Linked DNA regions of Homo sapiens. The protein of the gene in region 5 purifies or fractionates together with the protein of the main gene of each other region. This does not show direct contact. Each region holds a gene or a part of one and is shown on either strand. Other genes may lie near its edges.

Region 1 (4,333 bases), on a different chromosome or scaffold from region 5:
CAAATCAACCCAGTAATTCTCCAGTAACATAACCAATTATAAGGCAATATATGAAATGCCAGAAGAAGAATTCAAAATAATAATCTTAAGGAAACTCAATGAGATAAAAGAGAATACAGATAAACAATTCAATAAAATCAGGAAAACAATTTGTGATTTAAATGAAAAATTCAACAAAAAGATAGCTATCATAAAAAAAGAGATTTTAGAGCTGAAGAAGTCAATGAATGAAATAAAAAATACGATTTTTCAACAACAGCATAGAAAACGTAGAGGAAAGGATTTCTGAACTTGAAGACAAGTCTTTTGAAATAATACATGAGGATTTTAAAAACAAAAAGAAAAAGAATTTTAAAAAAATAAAGTTTACAGGATTTAGGAGACATCAGTAAGCAAAAAACATTCACATTATAAAAATTCTGGAAGGAGAAAAGAAAGAAAAAGGCACAGAAAACATATTTAATAAAATAATAGCAGAAAACTTTCCAAGTTTTGGGAGAGAGAGAGAGATTCAGATCCAAGAAGTTCAAAATTTCCCAAATAGATTTAACCCAAATACATCCTCTCTAAGGAATGTTATAGTCAAATTATCAAAAGGCAAAGACAAAGGAAGAATGATAAAAACACGCAAGAGAAAAGCATCAAGCCAAATATAAGGGAATCCCCCTTATACTGATAGCAGATTTCTCATCAGAAACCTTATGGGCCAAGAGAAAATGGAGTGATACATTCAAAGTACTGAAAGAAAATAACTGTCAGTGAATATTATATCCAGAAAAACTATCCTTCAGAAATAAAGGCAAGACTGTCACCAAGCAGAAAAAAAAAATCAATAAAATGACAGATGTAAGTTCTCATCTATCAAATAATCTTGAATGTAAATGGATTCAATTTCCCAATTAAAAGATATAGACTGGCCAAGTGGATTTAAAAATATAAGACCCAGCTGGGCATGGTGGCTCACGCCTGTAATCCTAGCACTTTGGGAGGCCAAGGAGGGTGCATTACCTGAAGTCAAGAGTTTGAGACTAGCCCGGCCAACATGATGAAACCCCATCCCTACTAAAAATACAAAAATTAGCTGGACATGGTGGCGGGCACCTGTAATCCCAGCTACTCAGGAGGCTGAGGCAGGAGAATTGCTTGAACCGGGGAAGCAGAGGTTGCAGTGAACCAAGATCATGCCATTGCACTCCAGCCTGGGTGACAAGAGCGAAACTCCATCTCAAAAAACCAACTATATGCCACCTACAGGAAACTCATCTCACCTGTAAAGACACACATAAACTGAAAGTGGAGTGGAAAAAAGACATGCAAACAGAATCCAAATACAAGCAGGAGTAGCTATACTTACATTAGATAAAACAGACTTTAAGACAAAGGCTATATAAAAAAGAACATTATGTAAAAATAAAGGAATTTATTCAGCAAGACGACATAACAATTGGAAATATATATGGACCCAATGTTGGAGCACCCAGATATATAAAGCTAATATTATTAAAGCTAAAGGGAGAGATAAACCTCAAAGCAATAATAGGTGGGGACTTCAACACCCTACTTTCAGCATTAGGCAGATGATCTAGACAGAAAATCAAGAAACATTGGATCTAAACCACACCATAAATCAAACAGACCTAACAGACCTTTACAGAACATTTTATATAACAGCTGCAAAATACACATTATTTTCACCAGCACATGGAACATTCTCCAGAATTGACAATATGTTAGGTCACAAAACAAGTCTCAAATAATTTTTAAAAATTACAATCATATCATCTTATGTGACCACAATGGAATAAAATTAGAAATCAATAACAAGAGGAACATTTGAAACTATACAAATACATGAAAGTTAAACAGCATGTTCCTGAATGACAAATGAGTAAAGAAAGAAATTAAGAAGTTTAAGAATTTCTTGAAACAAATGAAAATAGAAACACAAAATACCAAAACCTAAGGGATACAGCAAAAGCAGCATTAAGAGGCAAATCCATAGCAATAAATCCCTACATCAAAAAAGTAGTAATATTTCAAATTAACATCCTAACAGCACATATTAAGGAAGAAAACCAGGAATAAACTGAACCCAAAATTAGTAGGAGGAATAAAGATCAGAGCAGAACTCAATGAAACTGAACCTAAAAAGAAATGCAAAAAACCAACAACAAAAAAGTTTTGTTTTTTCTGTTTGCAATATTTTAACTTCAGGGGTATATAGGTAGGATGTGCAGGTTTATTAGGTAAATGTATGCCATGGTGATTTGCTGCACAGATCATTCCATCACCGAGGTATTAAGCCCAGCATCCATCAGCTATTCTTTCTGATGCTCTCCCTCCTCCCACTCCCCACCCTCTGACAGGCTCCAGTGTGTGTTTCCACCCTCCATATGTCCATGTGTTCTTATCATTCAGCTCCCACTTATAAGTGAGAAAATGCACTGTTTGGTTTTCTGTTTCTGCATTAGTTTGCTGAGGATAATCTAATCACCTCCACCTGCATCCATGTCCCTGCAAAGGACATGAACTCATCTATACATGGCTGCATAATATTTCATGGTATATATGTACCACATTTTCTTTATTCAGTCTATCACTGATGGGCATTTAGGTTGACTTCATGTCTTTGCTATTGTGAATAGTGCTGCAATGAACATACACGTGCATGTATCCTTAAAATGGAATTATTTATATTCCTTTGGGTATATACCCAGTAATCAGATTGCCGAGTCAAACAGTATTTCTGCCTCTATGTCTTTGATGAATCACCACATTGTCTTCCACAATGGTTGCACTAATTTACACTCCCACCAACAGTGTAAAAGTGTTCCTTTTTCTCCATAACCTCGCTAGCATCTGTTGTTTCTGGACTTTTTAGTAATCACCATTCTGACTGGTGTGAGATAGTATCTCATTGTAGTTTTGATTTGCATTTCTCTAATGATCAGTGATGTTGAGCTTTTTTTCATATGTTTCTTGGTTGCATGTATGTCTTCTTTTGAGAATTATCTATTCATGTTCCTTACCCACTTTTTAATGGGGTTCTTTTTTTCTTATACATTTGTTTAAGTTCCTTGTAGATGCTGGACATTAGGCCTTTGTTAGATGAATAGATTATAAAACTTTTCTCCCATTCTGTAGGTTGTCTGTTTACTCTGTTGATAGTTTCTTTGGCTGTGCAGAAGCTCTTTAGTTTAATCAGATCCCATTTGTCAATTTTTGTTTTTGTTGAAGTTGCTTTTGGCATCTTTGTCATGAAATCATGAAATCTTTGCCTGAGCCTATGTCCTGAATGATATTGTCTTGATTTTCTTCTAGGGTTTTTAGAGTTTGGGGTTTTACGTTTAAGTCTTTAATCCATCTTGAGTTGATTTTTGTACATGATGTAAGGAAGGTGTTTTACTCTGCTCTCATGCTGCTAATAAAGACATACCCAAGACTGGATAATTTATAAAAGAAAGAGGTTTAATTGACTCATAGTTCAGCATGGCTTGGGAGGCCTCAGAAAATTTACAATCACGACAGAAGGGGAAGCAGACATGTCCTTTTTCACATGGCAGCAGCATGGAGAAGTGCCAAGCAAAAGGAGGAAAAGCCCCTTATAAAACCGTCAAATCTCATGAGAATTCACTCACTATCATGAGAACAGCATGAGAGTAACTGCCCCCCATGATTAAATTACCTCCCAGCAGGTCCCTCCCATGACACATGGAGATTATAGAAACTACATTTCAAGATGAGATTTGGGTGGGGACACAGCCAAACCATATCAGAAGGGGTCCACTTTCAATTTTCTTCATATGGCTAGCCAGCTGTCCCAGCACCATTTATTAAATAGGGAATCCTTTCCCCATTGCTTGTTTCTGTCAGGTTTGTCAAAGATAAGATAGTTGTAGGTGTGCGGTGTTATTTCTGGGTTCTCTATTCTGTTCCATTGGTCTATGTGTCTGTTCTCGTACAACTACCATGCTGTTTTGATTACTGTAGCCCTATAGTATAGTTTGAAGTCAGGTAGCATGATGCTTCCAGCTTTGTTCTTTTTGCTGAGAATTGCCTTTGCTATTTGGGTTATGTTTTGGTTCCATATGAATTTTAAAACTGTTTTTTCTAATTCTGTGAACAATGTCAATTGTAGCTTAATGGGAATAGCACTGAATCTATAAACTATTTTGGGCAGTATGGTCATTTTCACAATATTGATTCTTCCTATCCATGAGCATGGACTGTTTTTCCATTTGTTTGTGTCATCTCTGATTTCTTTGAGCAGCAGTTTATAGTTTTTCTTAAAGAGGTCCTTCACTTCCCTTGTTAGTTGTTTTCCTAGGTATTT
Region 2 (3,972 bases), on a different chromosome or scaffold from region 5:
GTGGTTAGGTATACTTGCTGAAGAAAAACCCCTATGTCCTGTCTTAAAAATAGGGGAATAGGCCGGGCGCGGTGGCTCGTGCTGGTAATCCCAGCATTTTGGGAGGCTGAGGTGGGCGGATCATGAGGTCAGGAGTTCGAGACCAGCCTGACCAACACAGTGAAACCCCGTCTCTACTAAAAATACAAATATTAGCATGGTGGTGGGTGCCTGTAATCTCAGCTACTTGGGAGGCTGAGGCAGGAGAATCGCTTGAACCTGGGACTGGGAGGCAGAGGTTGCAATGAGCCAAGATTGTGCCACTGCACTCTAGCCTGGGTGACAGAACTAGACTCGGTCTCAAAAAAAATAAAATAAGGGAATAAATGCAGAACGAATTTTAATACAAAAGGCCTTATCTCCAATTGATGGCTCTTTTTGCCCTGTTAATGATTGAATATAATTAAGGATCCATGTTAACTTCGACTTTTTTATAATCCCATGTATCCATCATTTTTCTAATCCCATAATTGATTTAGAATACTGTCTTCTATGGACCTAAAATCTTTTTCTGTCAGAAATTTCAGTGAGAAGGTATGTACATTCTCTCATAGGACATGTGCTAAAATTTTGATGATGAAGATTAATATGGCCTTTTTACAAGATTGCCGCACAAATTTGTACAATGCGTGGATAAAAATTTTTTTAAGTGAGTTGTTTAAAAGGCTCACTTAAAAAAATCAGTTGGGCATGATGAGGTTGAACTTCAAGTTATTTAAGTTGTTGACTTTTATTATAGGATCATTAGTTCCTGTTGTTTAAAACTCATGTGAACCTTTAAGATGGGCTGAAGAAAAGTGGATCTGTACTACAAAATGAGGAAAGGGCTGCCAGCTTAAAGTTGCTGTTTTTGAAGATTCTACAACAGATGGCTTTATGACCAACCATAAGCAGATCTTAAGTATCTAGTGAAGAATTTAACTGCTAACAAGGAAGAATTTGGTTTGATTTAAAAGTAATATCTTCAAGCCTGGGCAACATGGAGAAACCCCGTCTCTACTAAAAATAGAAAAATTAGCTAGGTGTGGTTGTGTGTGCCTGTAGTCCCAGCTACTCAGGAAGCTGAGGATCGCTTGAGCCCAGGACGCAGGTTGCAGTGAGCTGAGATTGCACCACTACACCCCCAACCTGGGCCACAGAGTGAGACACTGTCTCAAAAATACATACCTTCAGCAAATCAAGATTTTTTTTTTTTTTTTTTTTGAGACGGAATCTCACTCTGTCGCCCAGGCTGGAGTGCAGTGGCATGATCTTGGCTCACTGCAGCCCTCACTCCTGGGTTCAAGCGATTCTCCTGCCTCAGCCTCCTAAGTAGCTGGGATTACAGGCACACGCCACCACGCCCAGCTAATTTTTGTATTTTTAGTAGAGACGGGGTTTCACCATATTGGCCAGGCTGGTTTCGAACTGCTGACCTGGTGGTCCGCCTGCCTCGGCCTCCCAGAGTGCTGGGATTACAGGCGTAAGCCACCACGCCTGGCCAAGAAAATCAAGATTTACCTGGTTTATGTGTTGACCAGCTATACACAGAGAATTCTAGATTTTTTTCTAAAAATTATTATCAAACCCCCAATTTCACCAGTAGAAAAAGAGATCTTAAGATTTCTGTGTTTTTTTTTCCAGCATAACTCAGTTACTTATGGCTGGGAGAAAATATGTAGGGAGATAATCTAATACCTAATTCGAAGGAAGAAAATATCTAATTCTAAGTCTTGAGTTCTTCTCATCAGACCATAGCAGGATTTAACATTTAACATTTTTCAGAAGCTTCTAATAGACTTCATTCAGTTTTTTGTCCACAGCAGTGGCATTTAAATTACTGTACTTTAAGACATGGAATTGCTGGAGGCTTGGAAACTTGAGTGCAATTTCCCTAGTACGACCTCCAAGGAGAATAGAGCAAAACAGTGGTAGGAAAAACTCTCAAAATTTTACCCAATTGTATGTTTTCTACATTGTCAGTATCTAGTTTTATATAGTTAATATGTACTTCTAAAATTTCTGACAGTGTTTGGTGTATAAAACAGACCAAGCTCAAGATGTAAAGAAGATTGAGAAATTCCACAGTCAACTAATGCGACTTATGGTAGCCAAGGAAGCCCGCAATGTTACCATGGAAACTGAGTGAATGGTTTGAAATGAAGACTTTGTCGTGTACTTAGGAAGTAAATATCTTTTGAATTAGAGAAAGTGTTGGGACAGAAAGTACTTTATGTAACTAAGTGGGCTGTTCAGAAGCTTAGAGGTCATTTTTTGTAATTTTCTTTTTAATTACTTTAGAGAGCTAGGGATGCAAATGTTTTCAGTTAGAAAGCCTTTATTTACTTTTGGAAATTGAACAAGAAATGCATCTGTCTTAGAAACTGGAGATTATTTGATGTTAGGTAAAACATGTAATTGTTTCTCTGGCAAATTTGTATCAGTAATTTGAAAATGAGATATTAGGAAAAACCAATTCTTCTTAAATTTAGTTCATCTTTCTTTAAAAGAACATTAAATGTAACCATTTTGTCAGATCCATGTATTTTGGAGCATAAAATGTATGCTGTTGTGACCAATAAATATAAAATATGGTAATTGGAATTAACTCCACACCATAGTATGCATTGTTATACATACTGTGTACCTAATTATGTATAGCAGTGTAGTCTCAATTATATCTGAAAGTAATTGTGACTAACAAGTATGCTTTGCCTTATTTCCACATTTAAACTACCTGTTAATATAAGGGATTTGTAGTATCAGCTTGTTGAGCAATGACTTTGAATCTAGTTTTCAGTGATCAGAAGCAGCAGTTATTTGAGTGTATGAATGGAATGATGATCACTGTGCTATAATGTACTGAAACCACCATATTACAGAAATATTTACTACATATTTTCCATCTGTAGTTTCTCAGAAGGGCTATGGATTAGTTTGAACTGTCAAATCCTTGCATACTTCTGTGACACCCCTGCCCATTTTCTGTCTTTAATTAACCAAGGTGTTAGGTGTGACTGTCACAACTGTTATGTTTTCCAGTAAACTAGAAGTACGATATTTGATAATTATATTTGTATTTCACCACCTAAATGTAATGTTGATTCCTCAAGAATGAAATGAAGGCACTACATTGAAATATGTTTTGTATAAATTTGTCATGTTGAACAGCATTTTAGCATGGTAAGTTCCCTTAGCTATATGAATTTTGGCATGTTTCAGAGAGATCAGTAAATAAAATATTAGATAAAATATATATTGTTTGTGTTGAAGTTTTTAACTTTTCAGAAATTGTTGATTTCTGAGCTGGGATATACTATATTCATTTAGTCCAAAATGAGCCTAGTAATGCTGAAAGCAAATTTTTTGTTTCTCAGTACTTTATATTATATGACTTTCTCTGCACTATATGTTAATAGCAAGTTTGTTTTCTTGAATTAGAAAAGTAACATCAAATAGTATAGGATTATTTTGGCTTTTTGTTTTTTTTTCCCCCAGAATTAATGGGATCACCATCAGGGGAGGGGAGAGGCTTGACCTTTTTCCCCCTTATTTAACACTACAGAGATGACCTGAAAAGGAGAGACTGGCATTTGGGTTCTTTGAGTCCTGGTAGCGTGTAACAGAGTGGTTAAGAACAGACATTCCAAGTCAGACTGCCTGGCTTTAAATCCTGGCTCCACTATTTCCTAACTCTGTGGTCTTAGACTAGATACTTTTCTAAGCCTTCATTTTCATCTCTGGAAATGGGGCCAACAATAGTACTTTGCTTGTAAGACTGTTAAGATTAAACATCATGATCCAAGGCTGGGCACAGTGGCTCATGCCTGTAATCCCAGCACTTTGCGAGGCTGAGGTGGGCGGTTCATTTGAGGCCAGGAGTTTGAAACCAGCCTGGCCAACAAGGTGAAACCCCATCTCTGCTACAAATACAAAAATGAGCTGGACACAGTG
Region 3 (3,722 bases), on a different chromosome or scaffold from region 5:
AGCTGGATCGACAGCAGCGCCCAGGGTTTTGGTGATTATAACCACCCTGCAGGGGTTCTTCTGAGTACGTCTTCAGGTTTCTTGTGTAGTTTTGTTAGAAGGGATTTTAGTGGCTCCAGGGCCTTAGGACCCTAGTGTGCAGCGAGGAGTGTCCACAGAGACCCTGCCCAGTCAGGCCCTACTTTAGGCTGGAGCCTGTGGGCTTATCTTCAAGGATTTTACAAACACTTCTGACAGGAGGCCTTGCAGGGAGATGATGCTGAGTTGGGACTGCGCACAGCCAAGGAGACCGCAGCAGTCTTCTCTTTCTGGCTCTTGTCACTTTTTCAAACTGTTTCTAGCTTTGTTTAAAGGCAAGTGTGAAATGACCCAGCCAGTAGTAATTAATTCTCAATTAAGCTGTCTCTCTAGAAGTGATTGGAAAGTTTTCTAAGATCCACTTAAAGGATTTATGGCCTAGATGTAAAAAATTTCAATTAAAGAGGAATGTGTCAGCCTTATTTAGAATGACAGCACAGGTAATTTTAATGTAATAATAAGTGCACGTTTTTATTTACAGCTATTGGTTTTCCTTTTCTTCTTCTCCTTGATGGGCCTGCTGTCGTCACATCTGACCTCAAATGTAAGTCAGACCTTACCAGCCAAGGTGTCCTCTCCCACTGTGGGCCAGGCAGGGGCACCAGGCAGCCAGCTTCCAAGTCAGGGTTTCCAGACTAGCTCAGGAGCTCCTTGTGTTTGCGGAAGTGTGAGTGAGAACTCCCAGGCCGTGGGTTTTTTTTTTTTTTTTTTGAGATGGGGGTCTCACTCTGTCACCCAGGCTGGAGTGCAGTGGTGTGATCTCAGCTCACTGCAACCTCAGCCTCCTGGGTTCAAGCAATTCTCCTGCATCAGCCTCCCGAGTAGCTGGGATTACAGGCGTGAGTCTGTCACACCCGGCTAATTTTTGTATTTTTAGTAGAGACGGGGTTTCACCATATTGCCAGGCTGGTCTTGAACTGGCCTCAGTGATCCGCCGACCTCGGCCTCCCAAAGTGTTGGGATTACAGGCATGAGCCACTGCATCCGGCCTGTGGGCCTTTCTTTTAATGTCTTATTTGAGGACGTGGTGCAGCAGCCTTGGTGTGGGTGCTCGAAGTCCCTGGCCTCCTACCTGAGCCTCTTCTGTCCAGAGGCCCAGTATTACCTTCTATAGGTAAAACTGTCACCAGTTTTAAGACTTACAATAAGCAAAGAGGAAATGCCCTCTTCTGTGCTGAGGGCTGTACCCTCCTACCCATGGGAGCACCAGGTCGGCCATTCTCAGGGTTGGTCTCCTGCGGTTTACAGAGCACCACAGACCTGCCAAAGGCTTTCCACGTTTGTGCAGCAATCCTCGAGTGTTTAGAGAAGAGGAAGATATCCTGGCTGGCACTCTTTCAGTTGACAGAGAGTGGTAAGAAACACGCTGCTGAGGCACAAATGCGGAGGGCCGCTCTTTTCAGAGGCATCTTGCAAATGGTTAAGAACGAGCCCTCCTTGAGGTTCCTTGCTAAGTAAGTTTATAAGCTCCATTTTAGTTGGGACAGATTAAGCACAAACTTGTTTAAAGCAATAAGATAATTTACTGGCTCACTGGTCAACCCCAGGACCAATGGGCCTATCATGGGGACTGCCTCTCTCTGCACCACACCCACCCTCCTGCAAGAGGTCGACCCCCCCATCCTCTCCCAGCTGCTGACAGGTACCTGGGTATCCTCAGCTCAGGCTGTTCGCCCCACACTATCCCCACAGCCAGGCCTCCCAGGGTACACGTCCCGACCCCCAGGGGTGTCCCCAGCACTGATAATAGGCAGAGATGTCCAGAGTTGCCTGAGCCACTTCTTGGTGTTGCAGACCTCAGGCTGGGGCGGCTCCTCCTCCGTGTGGCCCCGGATCAGCACACCAGGCTGCTGCCTTTCGCTTTTTACAGGTACCTCCACCCACAGGGCTGGTCAGGGCTGGGCAGTGTTTCCCAGACCCCCATCTCAGCACCTCTGGGTCCCGCCAGATGGGAAGGGTTGTCTGTGCCTCTGCTCCACAGATGAGCAGTATCCCTTGGCATCACCTGCTACCTTTCCAGCAGTCTGTAGCCATTTGTCACTATGTCTTTACCTCTAGTCTTCTCTCCTACTTCCATGAAGACGCGGCCATCAGGGAAGAGGCCTTCCTGCATGTTGCTGTGGACATGTACTTGAAGCTGGTCCAGCTCTTCGTGGCTGGGGATACAAGCACAGTTTCACCTCCAGCTGGCAGGAGCCTGGAGCTCAAGGGTCAGGCAGGTGCAAGGGCCAGTCCCACCTCCAGGGGAGCTCCCCCCAGCCGGAGGCTCCTTCTGCCAAAGAATGTTCCGGCACAGCATGCAGACTATGGGGGACACACCAGCCCTGTTTCTGTATGTCTTCTAACCTGTGAGTTTGCCTGTTTTCTCTCTAGGGCAACCCCGTGGAACTGATAACAAAAGCTCGTCTTTTTCTGCTGCAGTTAATACCTCGGTGCCCGAAAAAGAGCTTCTCACACGTGGCAGAGGTAACGTCAAGATGCCCACCTTGGGCCATGTGGGGGACATGAGAATTGACAGCTGCCTGGGCCATGTGCCTGCCTGGCTGGCAATACAACTCGACTATTTCTGCCAGAGCCCCTCCCCTGTGGTCTGAGGCCTAGTGGGCGGCATGGGCTGAGGACCTGCTCCTCTCTCACAGCTGCTGGCTGATCGTGGGGACTGCGACCCAGAGGTGAGCGCCGCCCTCCAGAGCAGACAGCAGGCTGCCCCTGACGCTGACCTGTCCCAGGAGCCTCATCTCTTCTGACGGGACCTGCCACTGCACACCAGCCCAGCTCCCGTGTAAATAATTTATTACAAGCATAACATGGAGCTCTTGTTGCACTAAAAAGTGGATTACAAATCTCCTCGACTGCTTTAGTGGGGAAAGGAATCAATTATTTATGAACTGTCCGGCCCCGAGTCACTCAGCGTTTGCGGGAAAATAAACCACTGGTCCCAGAGCAGAGGAAGGCTACTTGAGCCGGACACCAAGCCCGCCTCCAGCACCAAGGGCGGGCAGCACCCTCCGACCCTCCCATGCGGGTGCACACGAAGGGTGAGGCTGACACAGCCACTGCGGAGTCCAGGCTGCTAGAGGTGCTCATCCTCACTGCCGTCCTCAGGTGGGTTCGGGCTTCACCGCCTGGCCCTCTGTGGTCACAGAGGGGCTCGGTGGCCCAGGTGGTGGTTCCGCCTCCAGGGGCAGGGCCTTGTCCTGGGTCTGTGTCAGCGGGTGCACCATGGACATGTGTACATTGAGGTTGTGGGCCTTCTCAAACCGCCGGCCACACTGGTCACAGGCAAAGTCCAGCTCAGTCTCAGCCTTGTGTTTGGTCATGTGGTACTTGAGGGATGCCCGCTGCCTGCACTGGAACCCACAGACCTCACACCTGGGGGACAGAGGCAGATAAGAAGGTGCGAGGGCCACAGCCCTGGGAGGGGGTCCTGACTCACACTTACTGCAAAGGCTTGGCTCCCGAATGTCGCATTTGGTGGACGAGAAGGTGCTTCCGCTGCTTGAAGGTTTGTCCACATTCGTCACAGATATAGTTCCGCACCTCTGAGAGGGGAGAGTCCAGTGAGTCCAGGCCCCTGATGCTCCAACCTCCCGGGGGGACGACGATGACAATGTGAAACCATCACAGCTGGGAAGACATTTCTG
Region 4 (5,013 bases), on a different chromosome or scaffold from region 5:
CACATTGGGAGGCTGAGTCCGGCGGATCACCCGAGGTGTTCAAGACCAGCCTGACCAACATGGAGAAACCCCTTCTCTACTAAAAATACAAAATTAGCCAGGAATCATGGTGCATGCCTGTAATCCCAGCACATTGGGAGGCTGAGTCCAGCAGATCACCCGAGGTGTTCAAGACCAGCCTGACCAACATGGAGAAACCACTTCTCTACTAAAAATACAAAATTAGCCAGGTATCATGGTGCACGCCTGTAATCCCAGCTATTTGGGAGGCTGAGGCAGGAGAACTGCTTGAATCCGGGAGGGAGGCGGAGGTTGAGGTGAGATCATGCCATTGCACTCCAGCCTGAGCAACAAGAGTGAAACTCCGTCTCCAAAAAAAAAAAAAAAAAAATCCATTCTATACTCTTACAGATGCAACATACACTAGTATTTGAATTCCTACACTAGATTAAATCCAACTTTTCTATCTTCTGTAGTGTTATTTTCCCAATTTTATGTTTACCTTGATGTCTACAATATCACCTTTCTTATAGATTCGCATATATGTGGCCAAAGGAACAACTCCTACAAAAATAAATTTGGTATAGTGAGTATTAAGGCTAAAAATCTAGAGTAAAAGAAATGCAATTTTACTAGCTTTTAACACATATATCATTTTTGATGGTTACATGCTTATTATCTTCCCAATGGACAATTTCTCCTGACAGCACAATCAGCCTACTAAATCACAACCTCTCTCCAAAGTTTAATCTTGCATCAATACTTAGTCACAAAATCACCATATAATTTTGGTAATTTATTTACCTTATCACGAAATAAGCTGGGTAGACGCTAGTTATTTAATTCTATTGATACACATTCTATGAACTACAACACATGTTGAACACAACAGAACACAAATGTGTGCCATGCTTCTCTCAAGGAAGGTAAACCTACTTACCATGTTTTCTAAAAGGCCTAGAGAACATATATCGGGTGCCTCTCCTCTTTCCCTTTGTGTTCGTCATTTTGGCGAATTACTGAAACCAGAAAGCAGAACAGTCAAATACGACTGAAAACTGGCATTTGCCCCAAACCCCTGTAATTTCAAATGTTCACATTTCAGTAGCGAAGTGAGAACTGCAAACTGAAAGCTGGATCACCAAGCAGTTAGTTCTGTTGAAAGGTTAAAAAATCATTATTTTAGCAAGTAAGGTCTTTTGGCAAAACTGCCCAAGTTCTATAACATCAAAACTCTTAAGGAGCAGAACTTGATACGAGAATCCAAACTAGTACCCTTTCTCTATGAGAATATAAAAACACAACAGGACTTCTACCACACTCTATCTGTAGAACCCAATTTAGAATGCCAAGGGCATGTAATTACTAACTAGAAGATAATTTAGTGGAGAACACAATAAAACAGCCTTACATTTTTATGTGAATTAAACCTTTCTTGTCAACCAAATTTTCCGTGATGGTGTATCTCAAACATCATCTATTTAACTATCAGAAATCTCAAGCCACTTCACATTTCTGATTATTTACTACGAACGTATATAGGGTAGAAGAGAGGGGAACCCAGGCTTTATAATCATTGACCTAAATTTGACATAGGCTCTGCCACTTACTAGCTGGGACACCCACATTTCATCTCTCATCTTCATTTGTAAAATAGGGGTGAACACTTTCGTAGCTGAGGTAATGTCTACAAAGAACTCAGCAATGCTTGGCCCGTGTAAAGTGCTCAGTAGTAACCGGCAGCTAATTTATCATTATCTAAGAATTCACCTACAGGCATTTAGAAATTAACCTTTCCTTTGTTTCCCAAAAAGGCCAAAACAATAGTTTTGATAGCTCTTTAGTCATTATAGGGCAGAAATGCCATTCCTGGCCATTACTCCTACCATAAGGTAAAATACAGCAGTCAGGCTTGACGTGTTGACAATATTCTAACACAATTTGGTTTCTAAGTTTACCAACAATCCTTTAAGAATGGCTCCCAAAGTACCATTTTTATAAAAATTGTATAGCAAGAAGACATGTTTCACCTAACTCACCAAAGTCAAACCATTGTTACAATGGATGAACCCTTTAAATGCCAGGTACTCTGTTCCAATCCCCAAAGCCTTTAGATGTGTATAAAGTTCCAAAAACTTGTGCTAAGTTAGTACACAAAGGGTGATACTGTGTAGATTCAAGTCACTTTGTGGAATCACCAAGTGGCATAATCAGTTAACTCATTCCTGATTCCAGAGCCCATAATCCTCCACTAGATCCATCTTTCTGAGTTTGGAATCCATTTTAAGCATGGACCCCATACACTTAAAACTGAAGGCACTTTTCAAAACGATGCTTTACAGTTTGTAAGAGTATTAAAATCATGGCAACTAGGATCCACCATAAAGAGCAACCTGCAGTTTGCTCGACTCTGTTGACGTCCACAAACTAGACAAAATGATGAACTATGGCTAAATGTTTCCCTTCACTCAAAGCATGCTGCCCTAGAATTCGCAAAACAGTATCTCCTCTTGGTGCAAATATTGGTGTTGCAACCTCAAAACACTTTCCCTTCGTCCGATCACCATGTGGGGTCAAAATTTTAAAAACAGTCGGAAATCGTCTTATGCATTAACTAAGGGCAGTGAGGGTTCATCACCCAGGACGACTCCGGGACCCACTCTCCGACCGAGAGCCCGGGTTTTCACACCTGTAGGCTTCACAGAAGATTAAAGCCGACGCCTGACTTTAAACCCATTCCTACTACCCCTTAAGTCCTCACCCAACATCATCGCAAGATTTGGAATAAAAAAGCCACACTGAAAGGAGTTAGAAAGGCATCAGGCCACGCGGCCCCCACACAGCCTATGTGAGAGGGGCCACCCACAGTACCGGAGATGCAGCCACGGGAACATAAAACGAAGTCTTTTAAAGATTAACTCGAGTCGCCTCACCCCAAGCGACTCAGTCTCGTCTTTCTCGCAAATGTCCCCCCGCAGGGCCGCAACATCGCAGTCCGGTTCTCAGCCCACGGCCCAGACCCGACCCGGCGCACGCTGCTCCCCGTCTGGCAGAACATGGTTTAACCCGCCCATGCCAATGGACCTCAAACAGGTTAGAGAGTCTCCCCACGGTCCCAATGAACGACCTCTGAGGCCACAAGGTCGCGGTTCAAGTCTGTCGAACACCTAGCGCCCGGGAGCCACGCGTAGGCCCTACCTGGAAGATGGCGGTTCCGGCCGAAAGGAAAGAGGCGGGGCCGCGGCGCGCGCCTTACAAGGGCCTGTGGGCTGCCCACGGCGCTGCCTGAGGGAAACGCCAACCGTAAGCGACTTCTTTCTAGGGAAGAAGATCGTCTCTGAGAACACAGAAAGTCTGTGAGGATATTTTCCCCTCTTGCGAAAGAAAGGCAACCGGCCAACACAAGCTGACACTTGCATCGTGTCAGACAGCCCGGAAAGGGGCCTTCAAGGGCGATCAAGAGGACGCCGTCGTCCCGAGCGTGCTTACGCCATCCTTTGCGTCACCGCCTTCGCCGGAAGCTGCCTTGTATCCGCGTCTCCGCAGGGAAAACTGCGGCTGGCGGTGCGGGAAGTGCTATTAGTAGTTGTTTATTTGTTTGTTTGCAGAAATAATTGCTTGGGTACGAAGGTCAAACGAGAATGAAGCAAGTATATTATCTAGTTTGTATGTCTTTAAATAGTTTCTCCTCCACACGTCTAAACATACGCACCTGCTAGTAGGTGCGCAAATGTTAAAACCTCTTTGGGAAAGCAATGTGGCAAAATCTAGTAAAAGTTTTCAATTACTAAACCCCAGCACTCTGCTCCTACCTATATGTCTTGTAGAAACTTTGGTAAGTGAACAAGGATGTACGTAACAGCGCTGTGGGTAGAAGCAAAAAATTAGAAACGTCCATCAATAACAGAATAAATACCTTATGGGATGTTAGGATGTAGTATTATACGCCAATAAAAGAAGACTGAACTCAGAAATGTGATGAGGCAAAAAGAGAAAGATGTAGAAAAATAAATAGTATGACAATTCATATACATTCAACTCTAAAACTTGTAAAACAATGCTATATATTGCTTAGTTATGCATACATATGTAGTTAAAGAAGTCAAGAAATACAAGAGAATGAAAATCAAGTTGAGAAAAGCAGTCATATCTGGTAAGGAGGGGACAATAAAGGGAGGCTTTAACTGTATTGACCATTATTAAACCGGGTGTTAAATATATGGGTGGCCATTGTTTTATTCACTACACCTTTAAAAATAGATATTATTTTCTTAATGTAGTTTATTTAAATTGAGATAATGCCATATACCCAGCATCCAGTTTCCCCTATTATTAACATCTCATGCTAATATGGTACATTTGTTGCAATTAATGAACCAATATTTTACACTGTTATTAACTAAGGTTCACATTTTATTCAGATTTCCTTCGGTTTTACCTAATACCCTTTTTCTGTTCCAGGATTCCATCCAGAATACCACATTACATTTAGTTATGATGTCTCCTTATATGCCTCTTGTGGCTGTGGCAGTTTCTCAAACTTTCCTTACTTTTGGTGACCTTGAGAGTTTTGAGGAGTACTGGTCATGTATTTTGTAGGATGTCCTAATCATGGAATTTGTCTCATGTTTTTCTCATGATTGTATGTATTTTTAGGATGCATTTTTAAAAAGTCAGCTAAGTTAACAAAATCCCTTATCAGACTGAATATAAATAATATCGTCCAGTCGCTTTTGAAATTTGCATGTCTTCGACTCACTCTCCTGATGCACCTGAAAGTTGTAATTTCTAAGAACTGCGTCAGCACCATTTTTTAAATGTGTACATTCTGTGACCATCGTCATCAGCACTTAACATCATTTGCTGAAGAACTTGAGGAGGAATAGGATTTGGTATTGATTCCTTCAATACGTTGACTCCTCCAGACTTTCACTGTAACCATTAGCCCTTGGCTTCTAGATTGTCTTTAACTTAATTTTCTGTAGTTCATTATTACAGTCACTCTGTTAGCAC
Region 5 (4,866 bases):
ATGTTGGTGCAGAGATGGTTCCTGAAGCCATGGGCGTGGATGACATTACCCTGAGAGGGTAAAGAGAGAAAGGAGGGTCTATCACCAAGTCCCAAGGAACCTCAATATTTAAGAGATAGGCCCAGGAAGCAGAGTCTGCAAAGAAGATTGAGAAGGCACAACCAGAGAAGCAAGAGAATCAGGAAACAGATGTCATGAATGCCAAGGGAGAAGAGAACTTCATGAACAAGGGAGTGAAATGCTGCAGAGGTCCCATTATTTAAGCCCCAAAGAGGCTTTCATTAACCTCAGAGCATGTGGTTTTCAGGGGATGGAGGACAGGAAGCCAGATGCAGGGAGTCAAGCAAGAAGCTGATTGTGAACAAATGAAGACAGCCAGTGCTGACTCCACTAGATCCTGGACATCTGCAAAGGATGTGTTTCAAGGCTTTTCAGTTTCTCCAAATTCTCAAATAGCATTAATTTTCCCCAGGACTTCCTCCTACAATCTCACAGGATTCCCAGTACACATGAGTTACACAGTTGTGAATGGAGGTAACCAAGGCATTGTTGAAAATGGATGCGAGAGGTCAGCTAGGCTCATTTGCTTGCTAAAATAACTCACGTCTACTCACTAGCTTCCAGGTTTATCTGATCATTTGAGACCTCAAAAAAATGACAAATGACTGCAGGTTACAGTCTTTGGGCTTTCTCTGAAACAAATGAAGCCTTGGATGAGGCAAAGTCCTTAAAGCCAATGAATCCTTTAAATAAGATTAGCAGGGAAGGAAAGCAATGAAATTCATGGCCATCTCCCCCAACATTGCCAGACTGAGTAAAGTGAATGAACCATTCAATCAAACTTCTCTGGGCACACTGTGGGCCAGGTCCTTCAGCTGTGAAATAGAGACACAAAGCTGAATCAGACACACTCCCTGTCTTTCACAAGTTTTTAGACTAATGTGAGAAACAGAAATGGAAACACGTAACTACAATGTGATAAGTACCATGATATTGACATGTTCAAATTGCTACAGCAGCAAACTGGAGGAAGTACCTAACTCTGAGGATGGTACAGAATAAAGAAGGCTTCCAGAGGAAGGGGTATTTGAGCTGGGTCTTGAGAGACAAATAGGACATTGATACGTACATTGGGAAAACAGTGAGTAAAGAAACAGAAACATGAGAAACTAAGAAATATGGAACAGATGGACAAGATTGCAAATCTCCAAAAGGCAGAGGTTATACATGATGCTTTTACATCCTAAAAGCATAAAAATAAATATGCTAAAAATAAATAAATCTAAATAAATAAATAAATAAAAGGCACCACCACTCACCCACCCACACAAGCGAGAACCCTGGTAGTCTTCTCAATTACACCTTTTCTTTCACCTTTCAGATACAAGCTATGACTACATCCTCAATTCTGCCTCTGAAATTTGGCTAGGTTTAAAAAGTTAGGAGATCTAGGATCTAGTCCTAATGCTGTAACTAACTCCACTAACACAAGGTGAAACTCTAGGTAAGTTCCAACCCCATTCCCTTATTTGTAAATTGGGAGAAGAGGGATGTTTTCTCAAAATCTGAGATTCCCAAGGTTCCCTCTCAAGCCAAGGGCTTCCACAGATTGTACCATGAGCCCATGATTAAATCCCATCTTGTACTACCTCGATGATTTGACTTCTAGTTTCCACTGTTAGGCTAAATGTGTTAGAGGATGGTCTTAGTTGCCTCCCCTCCACACTCCCCCTGCCCCCTCGCCCCCGTAAATAAATGTTTGCTGAGTTTTAAGTCACCTGTGACACTCTATGAACGCTCTCTATTCTAACCATATGGTTTTTCTGCTTTTCTGAACCTGGGCTATACTATCCCAACGATGGACTCTTTGCTCAAGTTCTCTCGGCAAGAATGCCATTGTCTCCTAAGTGGCTGTGGCAGTACCTGGCACACAGGAAGTACTCAGTATATGTTGGTTACAGGAGAGCTCTGTTTAAATCTCTGCAGTTCCCTTTCATCAGAGAGAGATGCAAAAGTAATGGCAGTAACAAGACAAGTGAATAAAGTCCCAAGAAGAGAGACCTCTGCTTAATATAAGGAAGCTTTTCCACAGCAGAAAGTAGCAAGTGCTCTGTCACTGGAGGCATACAAGCCCAAGGAGGCAGGGCTACTGTCAGGCCTGCAGCTCTGATTCCAATTCTGCAGCAAATCATCCCCTGCTTAGGGGATGAATGGGCACCAGTGAGCTAGACAGACTGGCCAAGGGAGACCTGTGATGTTTTCTGCACCTGCTGTGACCTCCCAGATGTGATCTTCCTGCTAGGGCCAGTCCTGAGTTTCTGTTGTCCACATCAGAGAACCCCCACACCAAGAACAAGCCCAGGGCCTGCCCTCAGTCGAACTGACCTCCCTGGGGTGCAGCCTGCCCCTCCAACCTGCAACCATCTGTCCCTGCAGGTTTGCAGCCCAGGATCTGAAGCCAATTGCAGAAGGGAGGAGGTCAGAACCAGGGAGGGGCCTGGGGTCCTCCAGGCAGGGCTCAGGCTACAGGAGAACCAGAGGGGTCCTTTCCTACAAAAAAACAGCCTCCACATGAGGCTTTCTGTCCACAGAGCAGTGCATGGGGAGGAAAGGGTGTCCTCCATCCTGACTGGTGGGCCTGTGGGTACCAGAGGATGGAAGGGGCGGGGGGTGGGGTAGGGTGGGGGTGGGGGAGCAAGGGGTGGAGGTGTCTGCACCAGGGAGAAAAGAGCCCTTCAGACAAGATGGGCCACAATATTCCAGAGTCCCACTCAGCACGCACCACCACCACCACCCTCGGCCGCAGCGTTCAGCACCCTCCGCCAACACACACAAGCTCCCAAACCCCGCGCTCCCCTAAGGAACCATCACCCATCCACCCGCGCCTCCCCGCCTCAAAACAGGGACCTCACGTGAGCAGCCACAGCCCGAAGAATCCCCCTGCTGCTCTCACGGACATGGACACGCCTCACGTGGGCAGAGAGAGGCACAGCTTTTGAAAATCATCTGTGCCCCCACCCACAGACGCTCCGACCCAGACCCGGGCTGACAGGAATACAAACGCACCCTTGGGGCCCGCCCGTCGCACTCACCGCGTTGGAACAGGATGCGAGGGCAAAGCTCGGACTGCGGCCACTCTGAAGGGCCCGCGGCGCTGCTACTGCTGCCAGCGCCCGTCCGCCCGGCCCTGCCCGCGCCTCCGCCTGTCCCCGCGCCGGCGCCGCCGCCGGACTAGCCGCACAGGCCGGAGGGAGGGGCCGGGGCGGGGCTGCGGACCGGCCGGGGGAGGGGGTGACTCCAGTAGGGAAGACCCACCCACGCCCCGCCCGCCGCCGCGGAGGCCCCGCCCACCCCGCCTGCCCACCCCTACCGCACCCGCACGCCCCCCCGCCAACGCCTCCACCTCCTGCGGACGCTGCCTCCTTGGTGCTGCTAGGGAGCCGGCGGGCCGGCGAGCCGGATCCCGGATCTCGGATCCCGGATCTCCGCCAGCTGCCTCCGGCTCCGGGAAGGGCGGTGTAGTCGGTCTCAGGGATTGAGATGAGACTCCGTCAAGAAAAGGCAGCTGGGGCAGCAGGGATTTCGGACTCTGGGAGCCTGTCTGGGCCGCCTGCCTCCTGGAGGCGCCCTTTCCGGCTTCCTTGGAGTGCTCCTATGGAATATGCTAGTCTATCGGCTGACCAGGAAGACGTAGAAACCGTCTGTACCTCAGCACGATCTCTGGGCGGCAGAAGGGCAGTACCCAGAACTCTGGGAGAAGGAGTTAAGGGGTAGAAAGGTGGGGGATTTGATTAGGCTTTGGGCGCTTCAGGAGCCCCCTCCTGAGGAAATTCTGGTTCAGACCATCCAGCGACTCCCTTCCTCACACCAAAGACACTGGACAATTCTCAGAATCATCGCCTTGTGCAAAAAGCAGCCCCAAGTGGAAAATAATTGTAACAGTTTACAGGGACTGAGTGGTTATTATGTGCCGACACAGAACTAGCCACTTTACATATATTATTTAATAGTCAGTAGGTAGCATCTTTTATTAGCCCAATTTTACAATGGGAAAAAATAGGGATCTTGCTCCCCAGACGTTAGCCCTCATCACTCAGCTAGAAAGTGGCAGAACCTGGAGTTGAGCCCTGTTTTTAGGCCCTACAACCAGCATTTGGAGACTCGGTACCTTTCATGTTGAAAAATCCCCAGTGGCCCATTAAGTGGCAGCTCATATAAGGACCACCTTCCCTGCCCCAAAAATCAAGCTCTAGTCAGATGATTGCAGGCTGATCAAAGCCCAGAAGACTGTCTGGGAGCTGCAGTATCCATGACAAAGGGCAAAGTCATGCCTGTGAGGATCCCTGCACTATGGGAATCTGCTGAGTGGGTCTTCCCCTTCCTCCAGCCTTCCAGAGGTGGGGAAAATCCTGAAAAATTCTGGTTTCCTTGGCCAAAGGGCATACAGGTGATGACACCTAGCCCTGACTAAACCAAAGTGCTGTTAGGGATCTTTCTTGTGACCTCTCCACAAGGTTCAGATTTAGGCTCAACACCTGGGTGCAGCAGGAGCTTTGGGAACCGCCTCAACCTCTTATCCACCTGAGTTCAGCACATAGCACAAGATGCTCCAGTGCTTGTGAAGGAAACCCAGACGGGGATCATGCTTGCAGTTTTGGGCTGGGGCTACTATGCTACCCAAGATGAGGGAACTGGAGTCTAGATGACACTATCTTAAGCCTCAGAGGACTACTTTTCTCAACTCTATACTTCTCCCATGCAGTCAAATTTCTGCTTAAAACACTTCTCAGCTCCTTCTCCAGAGGGCAAAAGTCCTTAACCAGCCTGCAGTCTTCATCTAGCCACTCCCTCTTCATTTTTCATTCC
Region 6 (4,333 bases), on a different chromosome or scaffold from region 5:
ATAAAGGGAAAAATTTTATTTCTAAGCAAATATTTAAAATAAACACATTTACAATTAGCACAAACACATAGTATAATTTAAAGAAGCATTCCTCTGCAAAAATATATGTGAGACAGTCATGGGTCCAAGGAGAATTACAGGAAACTTGATAAGCACTTTTCAGAAAACATATTACCAAAATGTTCAGAGACAGACTATGTACATATGTAACTGAAAATAACCGAGTATACAAATCAAGTATAACAAAAACAGAAAAAACATTTTGTTAAGGTAGTAAAATTAAACTCACCCTGTACAACCCATAATTTCTGGTCCATCAAAAGAAAAGGGATCAGAATCATCTGGTTCTGACCTCATCCTGTATGTCTTTGTCAGCACTTCATTTGTAAAATATTCATTGGGTTCAAAGTGAAATTCTAAGACAAAACTCTGGGGAGAGGAAGCATAAAAATCAGTTAAATACCTACCTCACATATTTCAGTACTTTAGTAAACACAGCTTCATCTGTTTTTATAAATATTCTAAATGATAATTTTTTTTTCTACTCTGAAATACAATCTTCTTTTTGAGACTGAGTCTTGCATTGTTGCCCAGGCCGGAGTGCAGGGGCACAATTTCAGCTCACTGCAACCTTTGCCTCCCAGATTCAAGTGATTCTGGTGCGCCAGCCTGCCAATTATCTGGGATTATAGGTGTGTGCCACCACACCCAGTTAATTTTTGTATTTTTAGTACAGACAGTGTTTCACCACGTTGGACAGGCTGGTATTGACCTCCGGACCTCAAGTGATCCACCCACCTCGGCCTCCCAAAGTGCTGGGATTACAGGTGTGAGCCACTGCACCCAGCCATGAAATATTTAAGAATGGGACAGACTGTCAGATGAGCCCCAAATTATGTTAAAATCAAAAAAATTACGTTAAAATAATAATGAGGTACAAATTGAACTGAATAGAACTTAGTTTCAATTTACATCTATTAAATAATTAACATGTTTACACAACAGGCTAGGCATTCCTGAATAAAGTGACCATGTTGCCTCCCTTACTCCCCAACTACTGGAGGAATCAGGCTTTTAAATAGTAGACTAAACGTGAACTTGACACAGAAAAAGCCCAACCTTAAGCATCTACAGCCTATATTCTTAGCAGTTTTGCCCTTAGTTGACATTAATTCTGGTGGTTTGGTGGACAGCTTGTTGGCTGATCTTTCCTCATTAGGGAGTGGGCATCCTCTAACATCAGTTTTGTGTAATTCCCAAGCTCATGCCTTTTAATGCAGAAAAAGTACTTATTCATGTTCCCTTGGCATTATTTTTATCCACTTATCCAGGAACAAGGATTGTCTGTGTTTCAAACACAATTTATGATCAGAAGGAGGAAAAGGAATAAATACTGCCTCACAATTAGCAGCATCCAAATATTTATTCACTATAACAAAGAGCACCAACCTTACCCTTGAATGTTATCTTTTTAAAAGCTTCTATTTATCTACCTGTAAGCATGTTACAAAATTATAAATATTTCAAAGTTCTTTTACCATAGGCTGGCCAGCATCTGAGAACTTCACTTTAATATCTTTCAAGTGCTTCAGAATAGGTTCATCGTGTTCCTTCAAATTAAAAAAATAATAAAAATGAATAACATGGCATTCGAGGACTGTGTTCTGTTACTACACAAACACCAGCTGACTGAGACATAATATATTTCAAAGTAGTTTTGTATAGCAATTATGAACCTTAAGACTTACTCTCCAGGTTATGGCTTATACTAAAGCTAATTTATACTGTAGTTCTACTGCCACTGGTAGAGAAAAAGTGTCCAAATAGACAACTGAATTATTATATAGGTTGAAAAATCCAAAATCAAGTCTAAATAAGGCATATCTACTTTTAAAATGTTTCCTGATTGTAATTGCTGCCTTTTCCAGCTGCTTGTCCCCTTCCTCCTGGTCGTTCCTTTTCCACTTTGCTAAAGTAGAATTGTAATAAGCAGTAATTGTGTGAAGATCATTTCTTTTTCTCCATGTAACTTCCAACAATGACAAGACAGGGCAACATGTACTACTACAATGTAGACGGTAGGGGCTCACTCAAGAAATGCTTGAGGCAGTTTCCCAAAGGTGACAACAGTTATGGTTTGCCAGAGAATGTAACCATTGTGAATGAGTTTAACATCTTTATGGTATTCTTTTAAAATGCAAATTTCTCCTGGAAGAGTTAAGGGAATTGCATAATTGCAGCTATAAGATTAACTTTCCCATCATACTTCCATACTAAGTATGTAAAGACAAAAGGCACAGGGTTATAAGAAAACACCAGTCGATAATGAGCCATTATCAATGGGACCATTTCATTATCTCATTTTTTAAAATAAACTAATTTATTTGATTACATTAATCAAAGCTGTAATTTCTCTTCTACAGATATTAGCTATTTCAAAAGTAAGCAATCATTCTAGAAAGATCAACACTGAAGAGAACAGTGATCACAGCCATTTAAACTTCAAAGGTTTACCCTTCAAAGTAAACTGGTACATTTATGAATAAAATTACCTGAACCATATCACTGAGCAAGTCAACATTCTTAAAAACAGTTAACCAAAATTCAGGAATTCCTTTGGGGTCTTCTTTTTCTTCATCTTTTTTCTCATCTTCAATCTTGGCCTTTTCTTTCAATTCCTCCTTGATTAAGTGACAGCAAACATTATTTAATACATAGATTAGACCTCATGATAAAGTAGCAAAGGTATAAAAACCAAAAAGCACAGTCACCAGATATTACCTTCAAAGTTCTAGTCTATCTGTGTAAACACCGCCGTTGCCCATAACAAACCTTAATCCCATCAAAATTACTGCTACCACACCCCTCCAAAGAGAACCACTAAGGTGACCAAGATGTGTAGGAAAAACCATTTTAGTAAAAAAAAAATGTAAAAACTAATTAAAAATGAAGACTTAAGCATAATAAACAAGAAAAGCAACAGAAATACTAATTTGGTCCATTGCCTCACCCCATGGTGTTCTTAATCAAAACATTATATTCTCTTTACCAAACAACATAAAATAGCAATGCTAGAGAGGTGGAACACTTAACACAGCACTGAATGTGTGTCACAGCTCTGCCATTATTCATTGTGGGCAAGTCACTTAGAAGCCTCCATGTCTTCACTTGAAAATGGCAACAATCCTCAGCCTACCATGAAGTTAAAAAAAAAAAAAGAATATAATGAATCTACAAACTAAAAACTGTAAGCCAGGCGCAGTGGCTCACGCTTGTAATCCCAGCACTTTGGGAAGTGAGGTGGGTGGATCATTTAAGGTCAGGAGTTGGAGACCAGCCTGGCCAACATGGCGAAACCCCATCTTTACTAAAAGTACAAAAAATTAGTCAGGCATGGTGGCGCACGCCTGTTATCCAGTTACTGGGAGAAGGAGGCAGAAGAATTGCTTGAACCCAGGAGGTGGAGGTTGCAATAAGCCGAGACTGCACTCCAGCCTGGGCAACAGAGACTCAAAAAAACTATAAAAATAGGCTGGGCACAGTGGCTCAGTGGTTCAAGCCCATAATCCCAACAGTTTGGGAGGCTGAGGTGCGAAGATTGCTTGAAGCCAGGAGTCTAAGACCAGCCTAGGCAAGAAGACTCTGCCTCTACAAAAAAAAGTAGATTAAGCTGGGCATAGTAGCTTCAGATAGTCCTAGCAACTTGGGAGGCTGAGGTGGGAGAATAGCTTGGGCCCAGGAATGAGCTGCAGTGAGCCAAGATCATGCCAGTGTACTCCAGCCTGGGCAACACAGCAAGTCCCTGTCTCTTAAACAAAAAAACTATAAAATGTAAGGAAATAATGACTTTTTGAGTACAGATGGTGGTGCCAGGTTGAATAACAGTTCATCTGCATTATCATTCTTACAAAAAGGAAAAATATTTCCTAGGTATAAAAATACAACTGATGCTCTAGGGAGGCCCTGGCCGGGGAAACGAGTTGCATTTGTCGGCTCAGCTGGCAACAGTGGCGGGAGCAGAGCTGGCGGGGCCTGTGCAACTGCCTGGGTTTGTGAAATGGCTGCTGACGTTTCCGATTCCAATAGGGCTGACTGCAAAGGAGACCCAAGGAACAGAGCCAAGTTAGATGCTGATTACCTACTTTGAGTCCTTTATTGTGGAGTCTGTTCATTACCAATAGAGTACTGTGAATATATGCCTGATGTTGCTAAATGTAGACAATGATTAGAGAAGAATTTTCCAAATGAATATGCAAAACTTACTGTGGAAAATTCACCCAAACAAGAAGCTGGAATCTGTCAAGGTCAAGGAACAGCAGGGGAAGAAGAGGAG
Region 7 (4,333 bases), on a different chromosome or scaffold from region 5:
GCCAGGTGTGGTGGCACGCGCCTGTAATCCGAGCTACTCCAGAGGCTAAGGCAGGAGAATCGCTTGAACTCAGGAGGCGGAGGTTGCAGTGAGCCAAGATTGTGCCACTGCACTCCAGCCTGGGCGACAGAGTGAGAGTCCATCACAAAAAAAAAAAAAAAACAACACACACACACACACACACACACAATCAGCTGAGTGTTACGGCATACGCCATGCACACACAAAATTAGCTGAGTGATATGGCATACGCCTGTGGTCCCAGCTACTTGGGGGCTGAGGCGGGAGAATCCCTTGAACCCGGGAGGTGGAGGTTGCAGTGAGCTGAAGATCACGTCACTGCGTCACTGCACTCCAGCCTGGGTAACAGAGCGAGAAAAAAAAATTTTAGTTGTAATTGTCAACTATCAATAAAAACTCCAGAAACTTGGCCTCAATTTAAGCAACCAAATCTGCTCTAGGAAGCTGCTTCTTTACTTTATTTTATTTTATTTATTTATTTTTGAGACAGAGTTTCGCTCTTGTCACCCAGGCTGGAGTGCGATAGTGTGACCTTGGCTCACTAAAACCTCTGCCTCCTGGATTCAAACAATTCTCCTGCCTCAGCCTCCCAAGTAGTTGGGATTACAAGCACCCACCACCACACCTGGCTAATTTTTTTTGTATTTTTAGTAGAGACGGTCACCATGTTGGCCAGGCTAGTCTCGAACTCCTGACCTCAGGTGATCCACCCACCTCGGCCTCTCAAAGTCCTGGGATTACAGGCTGAGTCACTGTGACGGCCTTTACTCTCTTTTAATCCACAACAGTCCCTTCACTTATTTTTCCCATGAAACTGACTTTTGGAAGAGAAGTAGGATAACTGTCTTATAAAATGCCCCACAATTTGTACATTTTATCAGCCTGCCCATTTCCAGGGCTTCTGTTTCATAAAGGAACTCCAGTCTCCAGAGTTCTCCTATCCCACCTAGAACCCTCCTATCCCACCTAGAGCCCTCTTAGAGGCAAGTCAATTTGCTCTGTGGAGCCTCCTTCCTCATCTGAACAGAGAAGGAAATCACTGCCCTTCCGACTCCAGAGAGCTGCTATAAGACTCAGGTGAAGGCCGGGGGCTGTGGCTCATGCCTGTAATCCCAGCACTTTGGGAGGCCAAGGCGGGCGGATCACCTGAGGTCAGGAGTTCACAGCCTGACCAACATGGAGGAATCCCGTCTCTACTAAAATACAAAATTAGCCGGGCATGGTGGCACACGCCTGTAATCCCAGCTACTTGGGAGGCTGAACCAGAAGAATTGCTTGAACCTGGGAGGCAAGGGTTGCGGTGAGCTGAGATCACGCCACCATACTCCAGTCTGGGTAACAAGAGCGAAACTCCGTCTCAAAAAAAAAAAAAAAAAAGACTCGGGTAAAAATGCAATCCCACTGCTAGGTATATACCCAAATGAAAATAAATCAGGCTGGGTGTGGTGGCTCACGCCTGTAATTGCAACACTTTGGGGGGCCAAGGAGGGCCAATCACCTGAAGCCAGGAGTTTGAGACCAGCCTGGCCAACACAGCAACCCCATCTCTACTAAAAAATACAAAGATTAGCCGGGCGTGGTGGCAGGTGCCTGTAATCTCAGCTACTTGGGAGGCTTAGGCAGGAGAATCGCTTGAACCTGGGAGGTGGAGATTGTACTGGGCTGAGATCGTGCCACTGTCCTCTAGCCTGGGCAACAGAGCGAGGCTCGGTCTCAAAAGAAAAAAAACTGCAATAAATCCCATGTTTATTGCAGCACTCTTCACAATAGCCAAGATTTGAAAGCAACCCATATGTCTATCAACAGACAAATGGATAAAGAAATTGTGGTACACGAGGTCAGGAGATTGAGACCATCCTGGCCAACAAGGTGAAACCCCGTCTCTACTAAAAATACAGAAATTAGCCGGGCGTGGTGGCGGGCACCTGTAGTCCCAGCTACTAGGGAGGCTGAGGCAGGAGAATGGCGTGAACCTGGGAGGCGGAGCTTGCAGTGAACCAAGACTGCGCCACTGCACTCCAGCCTACTCCAGCCTAGGCGACACGGCGAGACTCCGTTTCAAAAAAAAAAATAGAAATTGTGGTACAAAGGCTGGGCATTGCTGTTCACGCCTCTAATCCCAGCACTTTGCAGGGAGGCAGGAGGATTATTTGAGCCCAGGAGTTGGAGACTAGCCTGGTGAAACCCCACCTGTACTAAAATATTAGCTGGGCTTGTGACACGTGCTATAGTCACAACTACCGGGAGGCTGAGGTGGGAGGATCACCTGAGCCCAAGAAGTCAAGGCTGAAGTGAGTTGTGATCACACCACTGCACTCTAGTCTGCGCGACAGAGAGACCCTGTCTACAAAAAAAAGGGAATGAGATCCTGTCATTTACAACAACAGGGAGGGCACTGGATGTTATTATGTTAAGTGAAATAAATCAGGCACAGAAAGAAAACTTTGCACGCTGTCACTTATTTGTGGGAACTAAAAAAATTAAAACAATTGAACTCATGCAGATAGTAGACTGAGGGTTACCAGAGGCTAGGAAGGGTAGTGGGGGGTGGAGGGGAAGGAGGGATGACTAATGGATACAAAAATATAATTAAATACAATGAATAAGATACAGTATTTGATAGCATAACAGGGTGACTACAGTCAACAATAATTTGTTGTACATTTCAAAGCAACTAAAAGAATATAATTGGATTGTTTGTAACACAAAGGATAAGTGCTTAAGGTGGTGGATACCCCATTTACCCTGATGTGATTATTACCCATTGTATGCCTGTATCAAAGTATCTCACATACCCCCAAAATGTATACACCTACTATGTACTCACACAAAAAAATTTTTAATTTCTAAAAACCTCGGCTGAAAATGGACAAAAAACACTTTAATAAACTCTCTAAGACTGTCTAAAAATAGAGTACAAATTACAAACAACCTCTTCCCTCCCTCCTGCAACCCCCAGCCAATCCTTTTCATGTTCTCCACCAAATTTGGTACAGCTCCACTCCCTCAGAATAATTCCTACCTCCCACAAATTCCATGCCCTGACCCTGACTTGTCCCTTAGGTCATCTCCCACTCAGAGGCCCCCATCCATTCTTCACTGCTTCTCAGAAAAATCATCCCCATCCCTCTGAAAGTTCCCTAACTACATTCCAGTTTAAACCTCACCAACTTTGCCCCACTTCAAACAAAGCTATCTGCTGCCGCAAACCCCTTCGATTAACCCTTCCAGTACCTTAGAATCCCCTCCCCAACCCTTTAGGATCTCAGAACACACCAAGCTTCCTCAAAGTTTCCTCCAACTCACATAAATCCTCTTTCCACTCCATCCAGAAAATAGCAGTCCCTAAAATCAATGCAGTCCACCTATGTCCAGAGGCACATTCTCATCACTTAATTCCCAATCTATTCCAGGTGCCTTCAACCCTCCCACCAATGTTAATGCCTCATGATGACATCCCCCCACCCCATCAAAGAAGACCCCACAGATCTGAAATGAGCCTGAGGTAATTCCCATCCCACCACTGCACCCTCTAAAACCTTCTGAAAGCTCCCACCCCCTCAAACTAAATTCTCCTGACGTGTCTGCCTCCCCAACCCCTCCATTAATTCTATACTCTGTACTCACACAATACCCACCATCACCCAAATTTTACCTCTGAACTCAACCCCTCACATATTTCTACTTAGTTGTATAAAAAAACAAATCTGAGGCCGGGCATGGTGGCTCACACCTGTAATCCCAGCACTTTGGGAGGCCGAGGCAGGTGGATCACGAGGTCAGGGGTTCAACACCAGCCTGACCAACACGGTGAAACTCCGTCTCTACTAAAAATACAAAAATTAGCTGGGCATGGTGGCGGGCGCCTGTAATCCCAGCTACTCGGGAGGCTGAGGCAGGAGAATTGCTTGAACCTGGGAGGCAGAGGTTGCAGTGAGCCGAGACCATGCCACTGCACTCCAGCCTGGGCGACAGAGTGAGACTCCGTCTCAAAAAAAAAAAAAACAAACAAAAAAAACAAATCTGAAACCTAAAAGAGAACTGACTCTTCCCCGACCCCACCAAACCTACAGCTCTCCATATCTTTCAAAATGGCAATTCCATCGTTCCAGGTAGGTGCTCAAGCCAAAAACAGTGGTGTCATCCTGGACTTCTGCCCCAAATTCTGTTCCCTCTTCTACCTTCAAAATATATCCAGAATATATTTATTTGACCCCTTCTCTTGAGTTTCAAGCCACCAATATTTTTATCTCAACTGGATTACTGCAACAGTCCAGCCAGAATCTTTACTTCCATTTCTGACCACTTTAAC

Evidence for each region.
Region 1: the proteins of TRIM3 (region 5) and CD200R1 purify together in Homo sapiens (co-immunoprecipitation; one large-scale study listed by IntAct). This does not show direct contact.
Region 2: the proteins of TRIM3 (region 5) and SRP9 purify together in Homo sapiens (affinity purification with mass spectrometry, with the first as the bait; one large-scale study listed by BioGRID). This does not show direct contact.
Region 3: the proteins of TRIM3 (region 5) and ZNF276 purify together in Homo sapiens (co-immunoprecipitation; one large-scale study listed by IntAct). This does not show direct contact.
Region 4: the proteins of TRIM3 (region 5) and RPL21 purify together in Homo sapiens (affinity purification with mass spectrometry, with the first as the bait; one large-scale study listed by BioGRID). This does not show direct contact.
Region 6: the proteins of TRIM3 (region 5) and NAP1L1 purify together in Homo sapiens (affinity purification with mass spectrometry, with the first as the bait; one large-scale study listed by BioGRID). This does not show direct contact.
Region 7: the proteins of TRIM3 (region 5) and SAE1 purify together in Homo sapiens (affinity purification with western blotting, with the first as the bait; one study listed by BioGRID). This does not show direct contact.

The regions. Positions count from the first base shown.
Region 1 is NC_000003.12:112,933,604-112,937,936, forward strand, and holds part of CD200R1 (cell surface glycoprotein CD200 receptor 1 isoform a precursor), read right to left. Parts: intron 1-4,333. UniProt on the Homo sapiens protein: Inhibitory receptor for the CD200/OX2 cell surface glycoprotein. Limits inflammation by inhibiting the expression of pro-inflammatory molecules including TNF-alpha, interferons, and inducible nitric oxide synthase (iNOS) in response to selected stimuli.
Region 2 is NC_000001.11:225,787,193-225,791,164, forward strand, and holds the end of SRP9 (signal recognition particle 9 kDa protein), read left to right. Parts: intron 1-2,047; coding exon 2,048-2,167; 3' UTR 2,168-3,272; downstream 3,273-3,972. UniProt on the Homo sapiens protein: Component of the signal recognition particle (SRP) complex, a ribonucleoprotein complex that mediates the cotranslational targeting of secretory and membrane proteins to the endoplasmic reticulum (ER).
Region 3 is NC_000016.10:89,737,704-89,741,425, reverse strand, and holds the end of ZNF276 (zinc finger protein 276), read right to left. Parts: exon of another isoform or gene 3,706-3,722; coding exon of another isoform or gene 3,621-3,705; coding exon 3,521-3,620; exon of another isoform or gene 3,451-3,520; coding exon 3,180-3,450; 3' UTR 2,826-3,179; coding exon of another isoform or gene 2,718-2,825; 3' UTR 2,545-2,717; coding exon of another isoform or gene 2,452-2,544; 3' UTR 2,298-2,451; coding exon of another isoform or gene 2,137-2,297; 3' UTR 1,949-2,136; coding exon of another isoform or gene 1,873-1,948; 3' UTR 1,433-1,872; coding exon of another isoform or gene 1,327-1,432; 3' UTR 623-1,326; coding exon of another isoform or gene 560-622; 3' UTR 501-559; downstream 1-500. Other genes in the region: FANCA (Fanconi anemia group A protein), read left to right, coding at 560-622, 1,327-1,432, 1,873-1,948, 2,137-2,293, 2,452-2,544, 2,718-2,825. UniProt on the Homo sapiens protein: May be involved in transcriptional regulation.
Region 4 is NC_000013.11:27,249,771-27,254,783, reverse strand, and holds the start of RPL21 (large ribosomal subunit protein eL21), read right to left. Parts: upstream 3,227-5,013; 5' UTR 3,199-3,226; intron 1,020-3,198; 5' UTR 1,008-1,019; coding exon 941-1,007; intron 565-940; coding exon 503-564; intron 1-502.
Region 5 is NC_000011.10:6,470,699-6,475,564, forward strand, and holds the start of TRIM3 (tripartite motif-containing protein 3), read right to left. Parts: upstream 3,244-4,866; 5' UTR 3,093-3,243; exon of another isoform or gene 2,960-3,092; coding exon of another isoform or gene 2,913-2,959; intron 2,551-2,912; coding exon of another isoform or gene 2,386-2,550; intron 1-2,385.
Region 6 is NC_000012.12:76,053,481-76,057,813, forward strand, and holds part of NAP1L1 (nucleosome assembly protein 1-like 1), read right to left. Parts: intron 2,682-4,333; coding exon 2,553-2,681; intron 1,611-2,552; coding exon 1,539-1,610; intron 430-1,538; coding exon 290-429; intron 1-289. UniProt on the Homo sapiens protein: Histone chaperone that plays a role in the nuclear import of H2A-H2B and nucleosome assembly.
Region 7 is NC_000019.10:47,133,560-47,137,892, reverse strand, and holds part of SAE1 (SUMO-activating enzyme subunit 1), read right to left. Parts: intron 1-4,333. UniProt on the Homo sapiens protein: The heterodimer acts as an E1 ligase for SUMO1, SUMO2, SUMO3, and probably SUMO4. It mediates ATP-dependent activation of SUMO proteins followed by formation of a thioester bond between a SUMO protein and a conserved active site cysteine residue on UBA2/SAE2.